Homo sapiens: one gene and its partners. The protein of the gene in region 3 interacts with the protein of the main gene of each other region in a pairwise test. Each region holds a gene or a part of one and is shown on either strand. Other genes may lie near its edges.

The links.
Region 1: the proteins of RAB2A (region 3) and FAM114A1 interact in binary tests that used the Homo sapiens proteins (3 or more experiments, as listed by UniProt).
Region 2: the proteins of RAB2A (region 3) and SGSM2 interact in a two-hybrid assay, tested with the Homo sapiens proteins (one study listed by BioGRID).

The regions. Positions count from the first base shown.
Region 1 is NC_000004.12:38,926,798-38,933,823, reverse strand, and holds part of FAM114A1 (protein NOXP20), read right to left. Parts: intron 6,974-7,026; coding exon of another isoform or gene 6,648-6,973; exon of another isoform or gene 5,490-6,647; intron 4,583-5,489; coding exon 4,491-4,582; intron 2,374-4,490; coding exon 2,212-2,373; intron 1,590-2,211; coding exon 1,450-1,589; intron 1-1,449. UniProt on the Homo sapiens protein: May play a role in neuronal cell development.
Region 2 is NC_000017.11:2,361,493-2,368,518, reverse strand, and holds part of SGSM2 (small G protein signaling modulator 2), read right to left. Parts: intron 6,883-7,026; coding exon 6,720-6,882; intron 6,411-6,719; coding exon 6,249-6,410; intron 5,682-6,248; coding exon 5,614-5,681; coding exon of another isoform or gene 5,531-5,613; coding exon 5,385-5,530; intron 5,055-5,384; coding exon 4,920-5,054; intron 4,520-4,919; coding exon of another isoform or gene 4,461-4,519; coding exon 4,336-4,460; intron 3,924-4,335; coding exon 3,856-3,923; intron 3,623-3,855; coding exon 3,462-3,622; intron 3,305-3,461; coding exon 3,178-3,304; intron 3,017-3,177; coding exon of another isoform or gene 2,880-3,016; exon of another isoform or gene 2,853-2,879; intron 2,145-2,852; exon of another isoform or gene 1,706-2,144; intron 1,481-1,705; coding exon of another isoform or gene 1,459-1,480; exon of another isoform or gene 1,363-1,458; intron 1,355-1,362; coding exon of another isoform or gene 1,289-1,354; exon of another isoform or gene 1,255-1,288; intron 1,249-1,254; coding exon 1,114-1,248; intron 1-1,113.
Region 3 is NC_000008.11:60,519,963-60,526,988, reverse strand, and holds part of RAB2A (ras-related protein Rab-2A), read right to left. Parts: intron 1-7,026.

The sequences.
Region 1 (7,026 bases), on a different chromosome or scaffold from region 3:
CTGAGACCTGTGTGTGTCCATCCCTGGATATTTTCAGGGGCTCTATTTTGGCTCCTGTGTCTGTCTAATAATACGAGGGTACTTAGGCCTATGTTAATTTTCCACATCACAGTATACAGTCATGTGCATAAAAGTTAAAGGCTTATTTTTCAGCTCCATACCAACTATTTTCATGAATGCTCCATATCAACTATTTTCATGTATATTCACTAGATTGCATATTCATATATGTTACACATATATTTTAATTTTACTTAATAAACTAATGATAATAGCTATTATTTATTGAAGAACATGATATAGGACAACACATACATGCACACATACAACCCACAGTGAACTGGTTAATATTAGTGACCGTCATCACTGGAGTTTGGAACGTGGAGACCTGGTATAAGTCCCCAGGAGCAGTGGAGTGTATTTGCCTATTTTGTGAATCTAGCTAGAAGTTACATTAAAGTGTCCTTTCTCTATTCATGTATATGTTGAAAATGTAATTACCCTCAAAAGGTTTTACTTCTAAGACTTTGATCTATTAAATAAGTACTTTCACGCCTCATGCAATGATTTAGTGTGTTTTCCCTTAAATCTCTTCATAAATAATTCCTAGAATGGCTAGTTAAGTCTTCTTCTTGCTAACATAATGCACTTGCTAAAGAAATCCTTATTTCTGGCTAGGCGTGGTGGCTCACGACTGTAATCCCAGCACTTTGGGAGGCCGAGGCAGGCAGATCACAAGGTCAAGAGATGGAGACCATCCTGGCCAACATGGTGAAAACCCGTCTCTACTAAAAATACAAAAATTAGCTGGATGTGGTGGTGCGCACCTGTAATCCCAGCTACTCGGGAGGCTGAGGCAGGAGAATCGCTTGAACCTGGGAGGCGGAGGTTGCAGTGAGTTGAGATCGTGACACTGTACTCCAACCTGGTGACAGAGCGAGACTCTGTCTCAAAAAAAAAAAAAAATCCTTATTTCTTAAGATGACCGTAGAACAATGGAATTGGTTGACTTGAAATTTGAATCTTTGGCCAGGTATGGTGGCTCATGCCTGTAATCGTAGCACTTTAGGAGGCTGAGGCAGGAGGACTGCTTGAGCTCAGGAGTTTGAGACCAGCCTGGGCAACGTGGCCAGGCCTGGTCTCTGCAATTAATTAAAAAATTAGCTGGATGTGGTGGCACGCACCTGTGGTCCCAACTCCAGGGGAGACTGAGGCAGGAGGGTCACGTGAGCCCAGGAGTTTGGGGCTGCAGTGAGTCATGATCATGCCATTGCACTCCAGTCTGGGTGACAGAGTGAGATCCCGTCTCAACAAAACAAAAAACAAAAACAAACAAAAAGAAACCTGAATCTTCTAGTGGCTTAGAGGGTGTGGGTGTGTATGTGTGTATCTGAATGGTACCTATATATAAAACTGGGAAAATAAGAATTTAAAGTAACATTTACTTACTTTATTAGAACTTTTGCTTGGTCCTGAGCTGGTTTTTCCTCTTCTTGTCCATGAAGAATTAATTCTGCTACTTTATGAAGCTGCTCAATACAGCGCGCTGTTACCTCCGCCAGACTTTCAATGGACGACATGTATACTTCCTGAAATGAATAGACACAAGCAAGAAATTTTTTACTGAGCAGATGCTTTTTTAAAAAAATGCTGTGACATTAGAAGTGATATAATTCTTTCAAAAATACCCCAAATATAACCCGAAATAGTTAACCTGATGATTACAAGCATATCTAAGACTTTAAGTGTAATGTTGCCAGGAAGGGCTGTAAAGCCCCCACGGATGTGGCAGGTCTGTTCACAGCTGCATCCCCAGTGCTTACAGCAATGCTGGGTACAAAACAGGCAGGTGCTAAAGAAGGTGTGTGGAAGGCCGGCTGAATGAACAGAGCTCAATGGATATTTTTCCTTACAGTGATCTAATCACTGCAACCTCCACCGCCCAGGTTTAAGCAATTCTCATACCTCAGCCTCCCAAGTAGCTGAGAGTACAGGCACACGCCACCACGCCCTGCTAATTATTATTATTATTATTTTGTATTTTTACTAGAGACAGGGTTTCACCATGTTGGCCAGGCTGGTCTCAAACTTATATTTCTATAACACGGAACAAATGAAAAAGAAATGGCCTCTCCTCAATTAAAATTAAGCTGCTAATAAAATGAACACACTCTTATTACCTTGTAGGCAGACAATCTAGAATGAATTTACCTCTATGGTCTTAGTTTTCTTTTCCTCCTTTTTGTCTTCTTGAGGGTCTTGAGATTTCTCTTCCTTTTCTTCCTTCTTTGTTTCTTCTTCGGACACTTTTGCCACATCTACTGACACCACGGTTTGATCCTCTTCCACCCAGTCATGAGCCCTCTTCATGGCCTGCAGAGGTCCCCAACCAAACAATCCTTTTATGGCGCAAATATGGAAACTAAGTCATTCCAACCCCAAGACTAGAATCAAGTGTCTCTAAGCCTTCAAGAATGGATCTCTGTATGTTTGGAGGATGACGGGGCAATTTTTCAACCCCCGAAAAAGATAACCTTGTTGTTGCTTTCTGGTAAATATAAAGTAGAAAAGAGGGACAGAACAGAAGGTATGGAAAGAACAATGCAAGCCTGAGGACTCTTCAAAAAGCATTTAAAAATGATATTCAGATAAGAATAAAAATGACAGTCACATTGAAAAATCTATGGTATATTTTTCACTTTTCATGACCATCTATAAAAGAATAATAGTATTTTTAAAAATATGTGTTAGAAATTGAGCCATGGGGCCGCGGCTACAGCAAATGTCCTCATCTGATATATTTCAGGAAGCTCTTCATGTTTCATGAACCTAACAATGTATCATGCTGGGAAGGTGAAGAAGGGCTCTGCGTTTCTTGATTCATGACAGGTCTTCCACCCTCAAGGGGGAGAAGAGAAGCGCTGCTGGAAAGGTCTGGTGCTGCTCTGTGTCTAGTTTAATTTCACATGAGTGCAGTTTACGCACTCTGTGCCCTGCAAAATCATGGCTAAATTAAACAATCAGAAACCTCCTCCCCTGCCTGTTATTCCCTGAATTTAGAACGAAGGGGCAGACTCACTCCAATTTTATCATTATAGTTTAAGCTGTTTGCTTAAGTAAAAGTTGTTTTGGGGCTTACACTAAACTTACTTCCCACGTTAAATCTTACACGCCAAAGTTAAAAATATCAGAGTGTTGAATGGTAAGTTAACAGCAAGAAGATCTGGGGAGAGAAAACCCAGCAAAACTGTCCTCAGTGTGTCCTCTATTACAGACAAAGATTTAACCCTAAGCAAATAAGCCAGTGGAATCTCAGAGCCACCACATGCCCCCTCTGAGCAGTGGCAGATGCTGCACGGAGATGAATGAGGCAACTTCCCACTGTGTTCAAGTCACTGACCTGCCAGAATCAGTGACCCCCATCAGAGATAAAGAAATTACTCATCTCACCTCCTCATTCTGCCCTTTTCCTCACCCACCTGGATAAGTGAGTACCTATGTAAACCACTGCTTGCTAAAAAGAAGAAAGAAAGAGAGAGAGAGAGAATGGAAAAACATCATGCAGTTTTAAGTAATTAATGATCATGGCCTCTAAAGAAACTTCACAGCAAGACCTTGTACTAACTTGCAAAACACACTGTGGTATTATTAGAGGAACCCAGATTGTTAAAGCTGGAATGGTCTTAGACATGATGCAGCCCCTGTGCTCCAGGTGGGAGGAACTGTGGGGTTTACCTGGCTGACGTGCCTCTCTCTACCTAATTCTGGCATGTTTCTTTAGAAGGGGGGCGGGGTGAAATTTGAAAAAAGCCTCTTGGTGATTCTGCACCCTTTTTCCCTGCCCTAACCTGATGATAACTACTGCTCCGACATAACATTCTATTTTGCCATGAAAAGGTAAGTGACTTATTCAAGGTTACAAGGTAATTACTAGTAAAATTACAACTAAAATGCAGATCTCATGACACAGTCTAGCATGTTCTCCACCACCACATTCCATTATGTTGCCTCCTCAAATCTTTTCGTTTTTTCCTTTTTTTAAAATTTGAGAGAGAGTCTCACTCTGTCACCTAGGCTGGAGTGCTGTGGCACAATCTCAGCTCCCTGCAACCTTGGCCTCCTGGGTTCAAGCGATTCTCTTGCCTCAGTCTCCCGAGTAGCTGGGATTACAGGCATGCGCCACCGCACTTGGCTAATTTTTGTATTTTAGTAGAGATGGAATTTCACCATGTTGGCCAGGCTGGTCTCAAACTCCTGACCTCAGGTGATCCACCCGCCTTGGCCTCCCAAAGTGCTGGGATTATAGGCGTGAGCCACGTGCCCAGCCCCTCCTCAAATCTTAATTACTGACCTCAAACTCCTCTCCCGGCACTATGCCACATAAGATTTGGGGGTTTTCCATTTCAGGTGCATCTCTGGAACTTTACAACAGAGACTCTCCCCTGCACTGTTTTTTTTTAACCAGAAACTATAAATCAGACAGTGCTGACCTTATTGAGTTTGTCAGGTGTGGCCGCCACATGTAATTCAAAGAGAAGCTCTGTAAGCATGCGAGCAAATTCTTCTCCCTTTTCTTCTAAGCCTAGAAATAGAACACGACAGAAGAAGCGTGATTTATTTTTCATCCTTCAGGATGTGGCAGCTCCCCCAACATTACAGCCTGCAGCTGGGGTAGACTAAGTGGAGGTTGTAGCAGCCTGCCCGCCAGCCGCTGGGCAAAGATGAATGTCTTCCATTCGTGAGCATGGCAGTGAGGCAGCAGATGCATCCGGGTGCAGGGCCGCTGAAGTCTTGCTGTTTGGCAGCTCCAGCAGGGACACCCCCAGGACAACCCAAAGGCAACAAGAGGTCAGGGAGGGACCTCGCTTGTCTTGTTCACAGCTGTAGGTGGTCAGCAGCTATTTGCTGAAAGAAGGACTGGGATGAACAAAGGCATGACCTTTCTCAGGCCTAAGAGACCTGGGACAACATCATATTTATGACTTCGATATTGTTATGCTTAGCATTGCAACCCTAATGGTACCCAGGTGCCCTTTTATGTCCACAGAGCCACAGTGCTGAATAAACCGAATTAGTCTCAACCATCTCTCTGGAGAAATTTCCCAAGGTTCCCTAGGATACCTGGCTGGTCCTACAATATTTCTTAATGATCTGTCTTCCTTTCACCCTGGAAGCTACTGAGGGACAGAGACAGTATTTCTTCTGCTCACTCTTGAATCCTAGAGTATCTAACACAATACCTCACATATCATAGGTGCTAAAATGAATATTTACAGAATGATTTATTAATACATTGCCTAATATATAATATGATATATTAATATATATAACAGACAGTATACGTATTAAAATATCAAATATCATAAAATAAAAAAATTAGGATCATTGTGGGCAATAAAGAGATTGTTAAAGATTACAATCTTATTTTTCTCTTTTAAAGTATCTGCAAGGCCATGCCATTTTTAACAGTTCTGAAAGGTGCCAAAGAATGGATTCCACATGGATTTATTACCAGTTTGGGGGAGAATAAAGGCATCATTTATCTCACCTGACTACATGATCTCAGAACTCTCTAAGAAGAAAATACTGTGGCTTATGCCAGTGGGGGAAGGCAGAGCCTTGAAGAGGGGACTAAGCCATGTGAGAAACACTGCATCCAGCCCTTGTCTGGAGATGCTATTTTCTGTTTTATGGACAAAATGGTTGATCTGCAGCCCACGAAGATAGCCTGGCATAGCTTGTAGGTATTTATTCAAAACATTTAGCTTAGATCCGCTTATTATTACCTATAACTCATCTATTCTCATGAGGGAAACAGATCAATAATCAAAACAGATAAGTAGTCCAGGCACGGTGGCTCACGCCTGTAATCCCAGCACTTTGGGAGGCCGAGATGGGTGGATCATGAGGTCAGGAGTTTGAGACCAGCCTGGCCAAGATGGTGAAACCCCGTCTCTACTAAAAATACAAAAATTAACCGGGCGCGGAGGCGGGCGCCTGTAATCCCAGCTACTTGGGAGGCTGAGGCAGGAGAATCACTTGAACCTGGGAGGCAGAGGTTGCAGTGAGCGGAGATCATGCCACTGCACTCTAGCCTGGGTGACAGAGCAAGACTCTGTCTCAAAAAACAAAACAAAATAAAACAAAACAGATAAGTAAATAACATCAACGTCAAGGGATACGTTTTATGGAGAAGTATAAACAGGGCTAGCTGGGGTTTAGGAGTTTTAAACAGGAGGTGCTGTGGTCTGAATGCCCCTGTCCTCTCCAAATTAATATTTTGAAACCTAATACCAATGTGATGACAATAGGAGGTGAGGCTTTGGGGGTGTGATTAGATCATGAAGTGGGGAGCCCCCCATGAACCGGATTAGTGCCCTAAAAAAAGAGGCCCCAGGGAGCTAGCTGGTCCCTTCCACCATGTAAGGACACAGCTAGAAGACACCAGCTGTGAACCAGAGATCAGGAGACCTCATTAGACACAGAATCTGCCAGCACTTTGAGCTTCGACTTTACGGTCTCCAAAGCTGTGAGAAATAGATTTCTGTTGTTTATAAGCCACATAGTCTATGGTATTTTGATATAGCAGCCTGAAGGGACTAAGACAGGAGGGAAGCTAACTAAGAAGGTGACAATTGAGTAATGTGCTAGAGGAGGAGAGCAATGAGCCAGCTACAAGATGTCAGGGGGGAAGAGCCTTCCAGCTGCAGTGTAGCAAGAGTAGAGTCCAGGAGGGAGTATGCCTGGTTCATCCATGGGAGCAGCAAGGACGTCAGCGTGGCTGCAGCAGAGTGAGGCAGGTGTGCGCAGGGAGGAGGCAGAGACGGCTGTCTTTGCTCATGACGAAGCCACAACAAGCAAATCGTTTTAACCCAAAGAGGTAAGTGCTCTAAGGGGGCTTTTGCAGCATATAATCCAGTTCTCAGAGGGGTGTGAAGCAGGGTTCCTGGAGGAGGTGATGCCTGAACAGAGCCTTCAAGAAAGAGAATGCATTAATCACACAAAGGGAGAGCTGGAGGGCTAGAC
Region 2 (7,026 bases), on a different chromosome or scaffold from region 3:
CTTCCCGGCAGAACTTTGGAAGCCTAAGGGGAGTGTGACATATTCTGAGGACATCCTCTGCAGGGGCGGGGAAAGGGAGAAGCAATTGATTTTGTAGCATGGGAATGGGTGGGAATGGGGAAGCTCCCCTCGTCTCTGGGAGAACTGGCCTCAGCCTCTTCCTACCCACCCCTTTCTGGAGCACCCATCCCAGCCCTCACAGGTCGCCTGGCTGATTGCTTGCTGAAAAGAGGGGGGCTCCCTCTCTACCAAGCCAGCTCTGTGCTAGGAAAGATGGGTGGTAGGCAGAGGAACCCTGAGAGGCTGAGGGCACTACGCTATCACCTCCAACAAAGGTGACCTCTCCATTCGTGGACCCTGAGACTCATGAGGGCAGGAACACATCTGTCTTATATCCCTGGCGCAGGTGAAGAGACGGAGCTCCGGGATAGTGAGAAACTTGCTCAAAACCACACAGTGAACCAGGGGCATATCTGGGGCGGGAGTTCATGTTGCCAGGCCCTGAGCCTGGCCCCTTCCTGGACACCATGCTGCAGCTATTTCTAGATTTCATGCCAAAGTACCAGGCCCTGCCGGCTGGGGCCCTCAGGCCTCCTGGGAAGACTGAGCCCTGGGGCCCTTCGCATGGCAGCCCTCAACCCCTCGCCTGACCCACAGCTGCTGCCCCTGCCCCAGGAAGGACCCGGTACCTCCATCCTGTTTCTGTTAAGTCAGGAGTCAGAAGCACCAGGCCCAGAGGCTGGTCTTCCCAATCAGCAGAGAGAAAGGAAGAGACCTCTGTCTGGCATTTGCCAGCCTGACCCCCGGAGTAGGAATGGGCTCAGAGATCCATTCAGGGTGCCCAGGAGGCAATCAGATAATCAGACCTTCCTATTAGCAAATCCTCTTCCTCCTCACAGCCTGGAGCCACCTGCCCTGGGCCAGCCCCTTTTCTTGCCAGCACCTGTCTGGCCTCCTTCTGCCCTCCCTGATCTGCCCCCGATGGAAGGGAACTGCCCTGGGTGCAAGTCCCCTAATGCCAACACTGCCGTTCGAACCCCTGTGGTGGGTGGCAGGCGGGCCCGGGAGGGAGGGTGGGGATGAGGTGGGTCAGGGAGAGGGAGGGATAAGAACCTTTCATCGGATTGGGAGCTGTGAGGTTCCGCGAGCAGATCATTGAGAGCATCGCGTGCAGTTTATCCTCCTCTTCCTCATCATCGTCCACCGAGGCCGCGCGGCTGGCCGCTAGGTGGTGGTAGTTAATAGTGACTGCTCAAAGAGAACAGCGAGAGGCAGAGGCATGAGGCCCTCATCCCTGGGCAGGACGGACTCCCTCCTTAAGGGGAGTGGAATGGAGGCCGGGGTCATCGTGAATCTGCAGGGCACAGAAGAGGGGAAGGGAGGGGACCAGAAAGCTCTTTGGATGATTTTCCTGGGAGAGTGTGGAAGGAGGCGAGGGGCTGGGGCAGCTGCAGAACCTCACTCTTCGGAGGCAGCCTCTCTAGGAAGAACAGAAGAGAGAGAACAGAGGTGGGAGGATGTGAAAGACCGGGACTGTCTGGGATGGGCTGGCAGCCCAGGAGGTCATCGGCCCTCACAGAGGCTGCGCATGACAGCTGGCAGATGGGTCCTGATCGTTCTCTAGCTCCTCTCAGGCTGGACCAAATCTGAAGATTACTCCAAATCCCCTTTTTCAGACTATAAATTCCACCTTCTTCCCTCCCAGGAAAAGGAAAGGGTTTTCCCAGAGCTGTCCTCAAGGAGCTGGAGTCGCTTGGTGGAGTTTCAGCCTCTGGGTGCCCTGGCTTGCCCTTGGCGAGGTGGTCCTGGAAGTGAAGTGACCAGGACTGGGAAATGGCAAAGATCGAAGAGGGGAGGCAGAGACTGGAGAAGCTAAACCAAGCAACAGCCTGAGACTAAGTGCCAAGTGTGTAAATACATTCTGGCCAAAGATGCGTCTCTTTGTCAGGTACATCTGGGAAGGGGGGACATCCCTGTGCCGTGTGCCCTCTGAGCCTGGTGGAGCTATCTGTGCTGTGGCTGAGTGTGCCGTCTGGGCAGTCCGGTCCCTAATACAGAGACAACTTGTTGACAACTTTTTGGCACAAGTTGGAAATTTAGGGAGCGGGTGGTCTTGTTAGCAATAAACGCTCTGGGCTGGCAAATTCCCCGACCTTATCTGTAAGAAAAGCAAGTCTGCCCAGAGAAGCCTATGGGCAGCAGCAGCACTCTGACCAGAAAGGGAACTTTGGTGTTGGTAGATGCACATAGACAGAGAGACCCCCTTGGGCCCAGGGGTGTGTGTCCAGGGTGGGGCAGGACCCACAAGGGCCAAGCCGCCTTTCTACCCGCCAGTGCCCAAAGCCCCCAGGCAGCCCCGAGTCTGCCTCTGATGCAACCTGCTACTTCAGCTAACGCTCATCAGTAGTTGGTTTGAGGAGGGCTCTGGCTCTAGGGGAGTCAGCAGACAATATTCACCATCCAAAAAGAAGCGCTGGGCCGGGCGCAGTGGTCACGCCTGTAACCCTAGCACTTTGGGAGGCTGAGGCAGGCAGATCACAAGGTCAGGAGTTTGAGACCAGCCTGGCCAATATGGTGAAACCCCATCTCTACTAAAAATACAAAAATTAGCCGGGCATGGAGGTGTGCGCCTGTAATCCCAGCTACTCAGGAGGCTGAGGTAGGAGGATCGCTTGAACCCAGGGGCAGAGGTTGCAGTGAGCTGAGATCACGCCATTAAACTCCAGCCTGGGTAAAAGAGCGAGACGTCGTCTCAAAAAAAAAAAAAAAAAAAAAGTAGCGCTGGTCCCATACCCAGGCTGTCTTGTAGGGGTTGGGGAGCAGGAGGTGAAGAGCAATGGAGGGTTCCCCACCTTCTACTTCTCGTTTCTCCACGTGTTTTACCCCTGGACAGGGTCTGAAAGGATAACTAAGAGTCTTGTGTAGTGACGCCTAGGTCTGCTGAGCCAAGAGTCCTGGCGTGGAGAAGTGGGGAAGGGAGCTGGGTAGAAGAGACGCACCTTTTCAAAGGCAATATCTGTGGGTAAAAGGTCCAGCTGAGAGGCTAGGCGATGAGCCTCTGGTGTTAACCTGGCCTGGTCAGTGGGCCCTGCCTGCTGCCCTCCTGGGTGACGCTGCGCTCCCCGCCTCCCAGAGCGTCTTCCTCTCCTCCCCCGGGATGAAGCTCGGGACACTCACTGTGCTCGTGCCTGTGGCCGGGGTAGATGATCCGGAACACATAGTCGGTGGCCCGCCCCGTGCCCATCTCCTCCATATCCACGGAGCGAATGCTGCTTCGTTTCCGTAGCTTGGGGAACACTTTCCCCTGTGGAAGGAGGGGTAGGTGGTCGGGCTGTATAGGGCAGAGTCTCATCCAGGGTTCCACACAAGGCCGCTCCTAAGAACTCCACGTGGGGAAGGAAGGGAGGCGGGCAGAGAACCCCACACACAGCCCTTCCCCTAAAGCCTCCCACCCGAGTTACCTTCCCTTGCTGGGTCCACAGCGGGGGCTCTAGCTGTCCCCGAGGCAGCAGCCCATTCTCCAGACAGGACAGAAAGGACAGCAGGTGTCCTCCCTGTGGGAAATGCAGCGGCGGCCTCTGGATGCCATCCTGGCTCACCAGCACAAGCGTGCCACCGCTCTCTGGGGGTGAACGTGGAGAGTGCGGCTGAGGCCCTCTCGTCGGCTATCACACCCTGCTGGCCAGTGCCCCCAGGCTGGGTAGGAGGCAGATGGCTGGGCTACAGCATGGCCTGGGAGCCCCATTAACAAGGATGGGAGGAGGACGAGGAGTCTTACAGGCCCCACGCACAGTGCACAGCTGGCAGAAGGCAGCCTCTCCCTTCCCACCCGAGCCGAGGACAAGGCAGGCTTACTTTGCTGGTGGCAGTGGATGCACACGACCTGGCTGAAGGGCACCACGAGGGCATAGTCCCAGTAAACGCTAGAAAGGAACCAGACTGCTGTCACTGTGTCCAAAGACCTGCCATCCTTCCTTCCTTCCTTGTCTCCTGGTCCTACCACCCCACGAAACTCCCCTGAAGATAGGATGACCATAGCCAAGAGGTGCACACAGCCAGCCATGACCCCTGAGATCTGTGCTGCCCGCTCGGCACATGGACAGCTGTCCGTCTCAGCCGCTGAGAGCTTGGCTCAGACAAACCTCTTCACGGCCAGGCTTGGCTCCGTCCTAGAGAGCTTGGGAATCACTCCAGGCAGCCGCTCCCTGCTATTCTTGGCGTCCAAATAAAGAGTGAGGTTGGCCTCCTGGAGCAAGCGGGGTTTCTCCATCCCTCTGCCTGAGGTCAAACCCACTCCCTGCCCTGGCTCCTGGGATTGAGTCCCAAAGCCCCCACCTCTTTTCCAGCTCGGAGTCCCCCAGAGTCCCATTCATGAGCTGGTTGGGGGTCCACTTCAGAGTCAGGCTCTCTGCAGACTGGTGCAGGGAGAGGTAGCCAGGGACCGCCTCCATATCCTCCTTCTACAGCGGGAGACACCGGAAGACCGACGATGAAGGGCTGAGAGGCTCTCAGGGATGGCCTATGAGAAATGAGCTCCCGCTGGGAGGAGGGGAGGCCAAGCTAGGCTAGTCACGGGGTCCTGGACTAGGGACGGGGCAGAAGCACAGGAAAACAGGACTCAGTTTCCCTGGTCAGCCTGGTGCCACTGACTCTCTCCTGCCAGCCTCCTGGATGCCAGGTCCATTCCAGGCCAGCCATACCCACACTGCGGACTCCCCTCGCCTGCTGGCTGCCATTCCTGTCCCCTGCCAACTAAAGGCTGGGCGTGAGTCGTGTGAAACAGGGAGTTGGGAGGCTGGGGCCATTCTCCCCCCCGTCTCTGGTCAAGCTCCTCAGGAAAGGAATAGCCATGGCTAGAGGCTTCCAGTCGTCTCGTTCGGGGACCTTCGGGGAGGGATGGCAGGATGAAGCTTTCCTACCGGCTGCACCAGCACGTGGTTCTTGCCATAGAGCAGCCGCGTCCGTGAGTTCTGGTGCAGGGACTCCACACACTCGCGGGCACAGGCAGCCAGCCTGTCCTCCGACGCGCTGCCGCTTGAGTGCCGTTTCCGGATCTGTGTGGAAGGCCGGGGCTCAGCCTCCAGCCTTGGGAAACTGGCCTCAAGGCTTGGGAACCCTCACGCTTCCATGCTGACCCTCTCCAGCTGACCCCAGGGGTCCTTCCTGCCCCGGTTTACTCCCAGCCACCCTCTGCTCTCCAGCCACGGACCAGCATGGGCTCCCGGCATTTGTGTTAAGTTTTATTGTGCGGAGAAGGCTCTTCTGAGGCAGCCGCTACCTTGGGGCATCTCCAAGGCCTGTCCCGTAGAGAGGCCGGTTTCCCGTCCCTACAGGCCCATGGGCATAGCCCAGATGAGCCCAAAGGGTGGGGAGGGGGCACCTACCCCCAGGGCTGGGCGCTTTGCAGGGGAGTCCTGGCGAGTAGGTGGACCCCGGATGCGGTGCCGCTGGACCAGCTCATCAGCAGAGGGGTCAGTCCAGTAGTGATCGGCTGTCTTGAGCTTAGTGTATTCCAAGGCACAGGGTCCCACTGTGGAGACAGAGACAGCCAGCCCAGACGATGCTCCCTCAGCACCTGCCCCGTACCCACTGTGCCTGTGCTCTCAGGCTCACCTAGAAGAGAGGCCAGGATCGGGCCGAACACAGGGTCTGCCAGCAGTGCCTCCTTCTCGTAGTACTTGCTGCCAGGAGACAGACAGTGTGACTGCCGAGGCTCCGGGGCTCATTCCAGGGCAGTCAAGCTCACCAGGTAGGGACATCCCCACAAAGACCAGATTCAGATCAGTCATCAAGAAACAGTGAGTCCTTAGGGACTGGGCTTCGTGAGGTGCCTGGTATGGCCAATGCCTTGAGGGCACCGAAGGGGACGGGGAGATGGAGGGTTGCCTACAGGCTGTCACGGACAGGCAAGCATCCTGAGGGCTGGGGCTGAGGGACGTCGGGAGACGGGTCAAGGGAGGGGCTGCTTGGGGAACGAGGCGGTCACCTGCAGTTTTTGGGGAACGGGGCGGTCACCTGCAGTTTTTGGGGAACGGGGCGGTCACCTGCAGTTTTTGGGGAACGGGGCGGTCACCTGCAGTTTTTGGGAACGGGGCGGTCACCTGCAGTTTTGGGGGGAACGGGGCGGTCACCTGCAGTTTTTGGGGAACGGGGCGGTCACCTGCAGTTTTTGGGGAACGGGGCGGTCACCTGCAGTTTTGGGGGGAACGGGGTGGTCACCTGCAGTTTTTGGGGAACGGGGCGGTCACCTGCAGTTTTCCGCCAGGTATTGCACGACCTTGTCCAGAACTTTCTCGATGAGCGCCGTGCGTACCCATACGTGTTTCAAGGCCTGAGGGCTGAGGGCCGGGGCCTTCCCGCTGGCTGAGCCCTGTCTCCGCAGGGCCTCCTGGCTGACCCCTGAGGGTTTCCTGCAAAGGCGGGGAGGGCTCCAGGAGTGCAGTGGTCTAGGGGTAAACCCCAGAATGCTGGCATTGGGAGTGGGGCTTGGTACCCCAAGATGGGAGCACAGAGAACTGACTGGGGTTGGGAGGTGAAGGAGGGGTACAGAGCCTTGTGCCCACAAGGAACCAATCCCCTCCCTCAAGCTGATCCCTCACCCAGAGGCCCTGCAAGGAACAGGCCCAGGATGCCAACTTTCCGATGGGTGTCCTAGGAAGTAGCAATTGCCAAGTGGGAAGAGCTGAAAGGAGGGAAGAAGGGGCTGGCCCAGGGCTCACCTGCCCTCTGCTTGTTGCTGCAGCTCCTGTACCTTGTGGCAAATCTCCCCCGCCACTGGGCACGTCTTCCCCACCTTGGTGAACAGGGCTGCCATCTTGTCACTGCGCAGGAAGCCAGCGGCACGGCGTCTCAGCTGATGCAAGAGGCAAGCCTCCACTGCACCTAGGCCACAAAGGGAAACGGCATCTGAGCCTGGGAAAGACGGGGGAGCAGGAAGAAAAGCTCCTCTTCCCCATACCTGTGGTGAGGCAAGGGGTAAGGGCAAGCCAAGGGCAGGCCAGGGAGATACCCTGGCTTCCTTCCAAA
Region 3 (7,026 bases):
CTTTTTTTTTTTTTTTTTTTGAGATGGAGTCTCGCACTGTCGCCCAGGCTGGAGTGCAATGGTGCCATCTCAGCTCACTGCAACCTCTCCCTCCCGGGTTCAAATGATGCTCTCATCTCAGCCTCCCAAGTAGCTGGGATTACAGGCGCATGCCGCCACGCCTGGCTAATTTTTTGTATTTTAGTAGAGATGGGGTTTCACCGTGTTGCCCAGGCTGGTCTCGAACTCCTCAGCGCAAGCAATCCACCCGCCTCAGCCTCCAAAGTGCTAGGATTACAGGCGTGAACCATCATGCCTGGCCTCAGGTAGTTCTTTATAGCAGTGTGAGAATGGACTAATGCAGGCCTTTATGGTAAGCGGAAAAATGCCCTCCAAAAGATATTAACATCCTAATCCCCAGAACCTGTGAATATTTTACCCTAGCATGGCAAAGGGGATTTTGTAGATTTGATTAAGATTAGACCTTGAGATGGGGAGATTAGCATGTATTATCCAGGTAAGCCCAATCTAATCACATGAGTCCTTAAAAGTGGAAAACCTTTCCTAAAACAGAGAGACTTGGGATGGCCCAACAAGAAAGATGAGACACAAGAAGGACGTGACCCACTGTTGTTGGTTGTGAAGATGGAGGAAGGGGGCCATGGGCCAAGGGATGTGGGTAGGTGGGTGGACTCTAGAAGTCGGGAAAAGCTCTCAGATGATAGCCAGGAAGGAAACGGGGTCTCAGCCCTACAGTTTCATGGAAGTATATTCTGCCAACAACCTGAATGAGCCAGGTAGCTGAATGAGCTAGAAGGGAACCCAGTCCTGTTGAAACCTGGATTTCATCCCAGTGACACGTTAGACTTCTGAACTATAGAACCGTAAGATAAATTCATGTTGTTTCAGTTGCTAAGTTTCTGGTAGTTTGTTATGCTAGCAACAGAAAACTTATATATATATATATATATATATATATATATATATATGTACACACACACATATATACATATAGACATATATACATATAGACATATAGACATATATATACATATATACATATATAGACATATATATATATCTTTATTCTCTCATTTACATTAAAAAAACTAAAAAATATATATATATAAGTGCCCTTAAATCCTGTTTTGAAACAAGGAGGAATAAATTGGTCAATGCATGCAGCCTACCCAGCAGAACCTACCTAGCACACATTCATTATTTACTGAAGCACTAACTCTAACTCTGTACCAGGCACCATCCTTCCTTTAAGGAGCTGGCTACAGCATGCTGCTATCAATATTCATTTTCTCCCTTAGATTTGGCTAAAAACACAGTGACTCTCAGCTATACCTGAAAATGAGAATATTTTAAAGTGAGAACTGGGAGAAACCTAAAGCTACATTATGGCTATGAAAAGTAAAAACTCAGAAGATATGGGGAAAGAAAGAGCAAAGGGGAATGGAGCCAGACCACCCTGTAATCAAGAGAATGGCCCGTGGAGTCAGACACCCCTAGATCTTTGTTCTACCACTGTATTCGTTCGTTTTCACACTGCTATAAAGATACTACCCGAGACTGGGTAATTTATAAAGAGGCTTAATTGACTCACAGTTCTGCATGGCTGGGGAGGCCTCAGAAAACTTATAATCATGGCAGAAGGGGAAGCAGGCACATATTACGTGGCGGCAGGAGAAAAACAGAGTATGAATGAGGAACTGTCAAACACTTATAAAACCATCAGATCTCATGAGCACTCACTATCACCAGATCAGCATGGGGGAAACTGACCCCATGATCCAATCACCTTCCATGGGATCCCTCCCTCAACACGTGGGGACTACAGAAATTAAAATTTGAGATGAGATTCGAGTGGGACACAGAGCCAAACCAGATCAACCATCTACTAAGATAATTTGCCCCAAATGACACAACTCAGTTTCTCCATCTGTAAAACAGTAATCTCATGTATCTGTTGAAGAATTAACAGATAATAAGCTTTTGATATGGTGTAGGAACTATAAAAAGTGTGGAGGATTACTCATGAGAATCTGCTATACAGACCACAATGCCAAAAGCTAATGTGATGGAGAATTCCATACAAATTCAGTCTGGCTACACCTTAGGGATTAAATAAAATCCCCCAAAGCAGAAAACTTGGCAGCAGAAAAAGAAGAATCAATTTTAGAAAAATAAGCAAAAAAGGCCCATGGCTTACCAGCAGTGGAATGTTACAGTACTACCATCAATACAAACAATACTTTTTAAAAATACTGATGTCTGGGACTCCCCGGAGAGTGACTAAAACAGCATTTCCATGGATGAGAACCAAATATTAATAGTTTGAGTTAAGAAACACTGCAGAAATTAAAAGGGGGCTACTATGTGTGCATTACAGGAGAGAGAATCTAGAACCTTTTTGCCAGGGATCTCTTACTTACAAGTGAAAAGTAACAGCTAAAACTAGAGTATTTTAAAACTTGCAAATAATCAAGGCTAATGAAATCAAATGGGACAGTTTCTTTTAGAAAATGTAAAGTTAGGAGAGGGACAAGAGAGGTCTGCATATGGCTGCATCTTTTGTAGCAAAGGACACAGCCTCATAGACTAAAGTGAGCAGAGAATAACAAATGAAGTAAGCACAGCTGGGCCAGAAGGAAAGGGAAAAACAGCTGAGATGGCAAAATTAGGGTCTGCTCAAATAAAACATCAAACTGACTGGCTACTGCAAGAGGAGGAGAGCTGAAGAATTAAAATGAAGGAGGGAAGCAGTTGGGGAGATAAAAGAGAAACTTTCATGCTGGACAGGAATGGCATGGGACAGAAAGGACAGAACACCAATTGAGAAGATGAGTAGGGAGAGTCACCAGAGGAGTTTAAGAAAGGTAAAAAGGAATGAGAACAACAGGGACAATAGCCTCTATGATTCACTATAAAGTCTCAGGCACGGTATAAATATTAGGGGGAGGAAGTAGTAAATAAACTGGGTTAGAAAACAGACAGAAAAGAGCTAGTCAAAAATCCTGAAAGACTACCAATAATATATATAAAGCAAAAATTTGGAGGCCGAGGCAGGCGGATCACGAGGTCAGGAGATCGAGACTATCCTGGCTAACATGGTGAAACCCCGTCTCTACTAAAAACACAAAAAATTAGCCAGGCATGGTCATGGGCGCCTGTAGTCCCAGCTACTTGGGAGGCTGAGGCAGGAGAATGGTGTGAACCCGGGAGACGGAGCTTGCAGTGAGCCGAGATCGCGCCACTGCACTCTAGCCTGGGCGACAAAGCGAGACTTGTCTCAAAAAAAAAAAAAAAAATGAAGGTTAACAAAAGTATATCATCTAAATTGTAAATGATGTTAAAAGATATGTTTCAGCTCTCATTTGATAAATGAAACAGCTAAGCACATCTAAAAATGGGCAAAACTAAATAATACAGTTTAGGAATCCATAAGTGATACAACTATGAAGAAAAGCAGGGGAGGATTAATATAAAATTCAGGCCAGTGGAAAACTGGTTGAGAAAGAGACATATGTAAGAATGTGGAGTCCTTGGCCGGGCGTGGTGGCTCATGCCTGTAATCCCAGCATTTTGGGAGGCAGAGGCGGGCGGATCACGAGGTCAGGAGATCAAGACAATCCTGGCTAACACAGTGAAAGCCCGTCTTCACTAAAAATACAAAAAATTAGCCGGGCGTGGTGGCGGGCGCCTGTAGTCCCAGCTATTCGGGAGGCTGAGGCAGGAGAATGGCGTGAATCCAGGAGGCAGAAGTTGCAGTGAGCTGAGATTGCGCCACTGCACTCCAGCCTGGGTGACAGCGAGACTGTCTCAAGAAAAAAAAAAAAAGAAAAAGAATGTGGAGTCCTTTTGCATGGGTGTTTATCATTATTCTTTAAAACTATTAAACTGTGTATATGTATTTTATATATTCTTTTATATGCATGCTACATCTCAATAAAAAAGCTTTAATAGAATTTTTCTACCTCTGAACTTCCCAGGTTGTTTTTTGAAGGTAATTCTAACAAATCTGCTTATATAATAAAATAAAATGACTAGTACTTCTGGCCGCAGGTTTTGCAACATTCAGCTCCACCTCAAATCTAGTCAATCAAAATCTCTAGGGGTTGGGCTGCTGAATATTTTTTTTTTTAAACAAACACTCCAGTGATTCACAAGAATCTAAAGAAACTCAAATTTGAGTCTCCCACAGGAAGAGGTCTTCCTTCTGTTTTTCTCTAGAGCTATTGAGAATCTAATCCCCTTCCTTCCCCAATCCTTCCCCAAATCCTCTACAACTTTGCTCCTTACCTCCCCTTCTCTTGTATTTAACCTTTCAACCTCAAGTCTCTCCTATCTTAAAATACAAACACACACTCACATTTATTCTTCAATAAAATAACCCATGCATGGTTCTACTTGTAACTTCCCAATAACTCTTTTTGTAAAACCACCAATACTATGTGTGATATTGTTTAAATTTTTTTTTAAAAAAGAAAGTAGGAGGACCCTACAATATAAAAAGCCCCATTTCACCAACACCAACTCTTTCAGTGTAATCAATATAAGCATATAATTCTACTCTCCTCCCCAGAAGTAACGGTTAAGTGTGTAGTCTTGGGACTTTTTTTATTTACACATATATAAAAATCCACAGTTTTTTAACAACATAAATGAAAATACACCTTAGTTCTCCCCCTCACTGACATCTGAATCAAACACTGTGTCAAAGCACTAATGTCTTCCTACCATTTCAACCAATAGTCCCTGACCTCTACTGCACATGACACTGGTAACCACTCCCTCTCTGGGATCTGCCTTCTCTGCAGATTCCATGACACTGTACTGCCCAGGTCTCTCTTGCTCTTTTGATTATTCCTTGTTAGCCTACTATGCTGATAACTTTCCCCATGTGCCCCATGAACACTAGTATTTCCCACCATTACATCCAAGCTTTCATCTGTCAATTCATTCAATGAACAATCACCACCTACTTCATTCCAGGAGGACAACTTTGTCAGATCCCCATTTGTCAATGGTTTTGCATGTGAACCAATGCTCCAAATCACTTGCATCAAAGAAACAAATGCTGCCTTGCCGCGGTGGCTCACACCTGTAATCCCAGCACTTAAGGAGGCCGAGGTGAGTGGACCACCTGAGGTCAGGAGTTCGAGACCCAGTCAGACCAACATGGCAAAACTCCATCTCTACTAAAAATACAAAAATCAGCTGGGCGTGGGGGCAGACGCCTGTAATCCCAGCTACTGGGGAGGCTGAGGCAGGAGAATCGCTTGAACCTAAGAGGTGGAGGTTGCAGTGAACCCAGATGGCGCCACTGCACTCCAGCCTGGGTGACAAGAGCAAAACTCCATCTCAAAAAAAAGAAACAAATGCTTGCAATTTTAGCATGATACATAATTTCACTTTGCAACTAATTTGAACTATATTATGATCAGCAAGCCCCTACGCCAATCAGGAGGATGGGAATTAGAAGTAAGCTTGAGTAGTTAATTTTTTAAGGTGATAACTTATTAATAATTATTTTCATATCATGAGAATTTTTCTTCCCTACATAACCTTGTAATTTCAAAAGCTCAGAAAATGAACTCTCAGGTAATAGGGACTCCATTTTATGTTATTAGCTCCCAAGTCTCTATCCCAGATTACTCTCTCCTGAGCCAGAAATAAACTTTCAACTACATACCAGACATTCCCCCATGCCCACTCTGGCGGTGCCTACTCATCATTCTAATTTCAGCTGAAACATCACCTAGTGCCTCCCCTCAAGGATCCATCCACTTAACTATTAAATAAATCTGACACTCAATGGTGTACCCTGGCATCTAAGACAAAGGCAAAGACCTTCCTAACTAAAAAGATAATTTAAAATGCAAGTGGGGCTGAGAGCTGTGGCTTGTGCTTGTAATCTGGCACTTTGGGAGGCTGAAGTGGGAGGATGGCTTAAGCCCAGGAGTTTGAGACCAGCCTGAGCAACACAGTGAGAGCCCATCTCTACAAAAATTTAAAAATTAGCCAGGCATGGTGGCATGTGCCTGTGTTCCCAGCTACTTGGAAGACTTAGGTGGGAGGATTGCTTAGGCCCAGGAGACTGAAGCTGTAGTGAGTGAGCCGTGATAGTGCCACTGCACTCCTGCCTGGGCAACAGAGATCATGTCTCAATAGATAGATAAATAATATAAGTAAAATAAAATAAAATGGAAGTGGTGGGTATATACATAAGAGTGAAAAATAAAAAATAAAATGTAAGTGGGACTGGGACTGAAGAGAAGGGAAACAGAATGAGGGAAGAGAGGAGGGGACCAGCATAAAATGCAACAGGGAGTGGTAGGATTTGTTAAACTCTCAAAAGAATGGATAAAAAGGAGTTGGCCAGGTGACAAAAATTTTTGACATAACTTTTTTTGATAGGGAAGAACAAGAAGGAGTGCTTCAGATATTAGCAGAAATAAGAACACAACCAAACCTGTGCCTTTGTTTACCTTGCTGAGCGTTGAGCAGCAGGGAGGGTTAGTGATAAGGTTAAAATGGTTGGCAGATGCTAGAATTTCAGAAGAAAAATTACTATAGATTCGTATTTTTTCTCTCCATGCTTGATAATTAACTGCTTATTAAAAACCACTTTCCACTTTACATCTAGATTTAAATGACACATTTTACTAAATGATTCAGAAACAAGACAGGAACAAGGAAAAAATTTAAAGCTACATTTTAACTGCATTTAGTCTTACAGTAAGAAAACAGCTCAATAGTATCATCATGATCATGTAAAAGTTTTTAAAACCTCTTCTATTAAAGAGGGAATTCTGAAAAGGAAAAATGTGCATTGTTCCTTTCCTTTGAGAAATCAAAGTACTTTCACATTTATCCTCATTTTATCCCACATACTGAGAGAAGGTTATAGGTTACGGAAACAGGGAAACAGAAAAATTAGGTGATTTCCTTCATTCTAAGATGCATGTTTTTGACCCTGACTTTTTAAAAAATCAAAGTGGATCTCACATTACTGATTTTAAAGTCATCTTTTCTAGG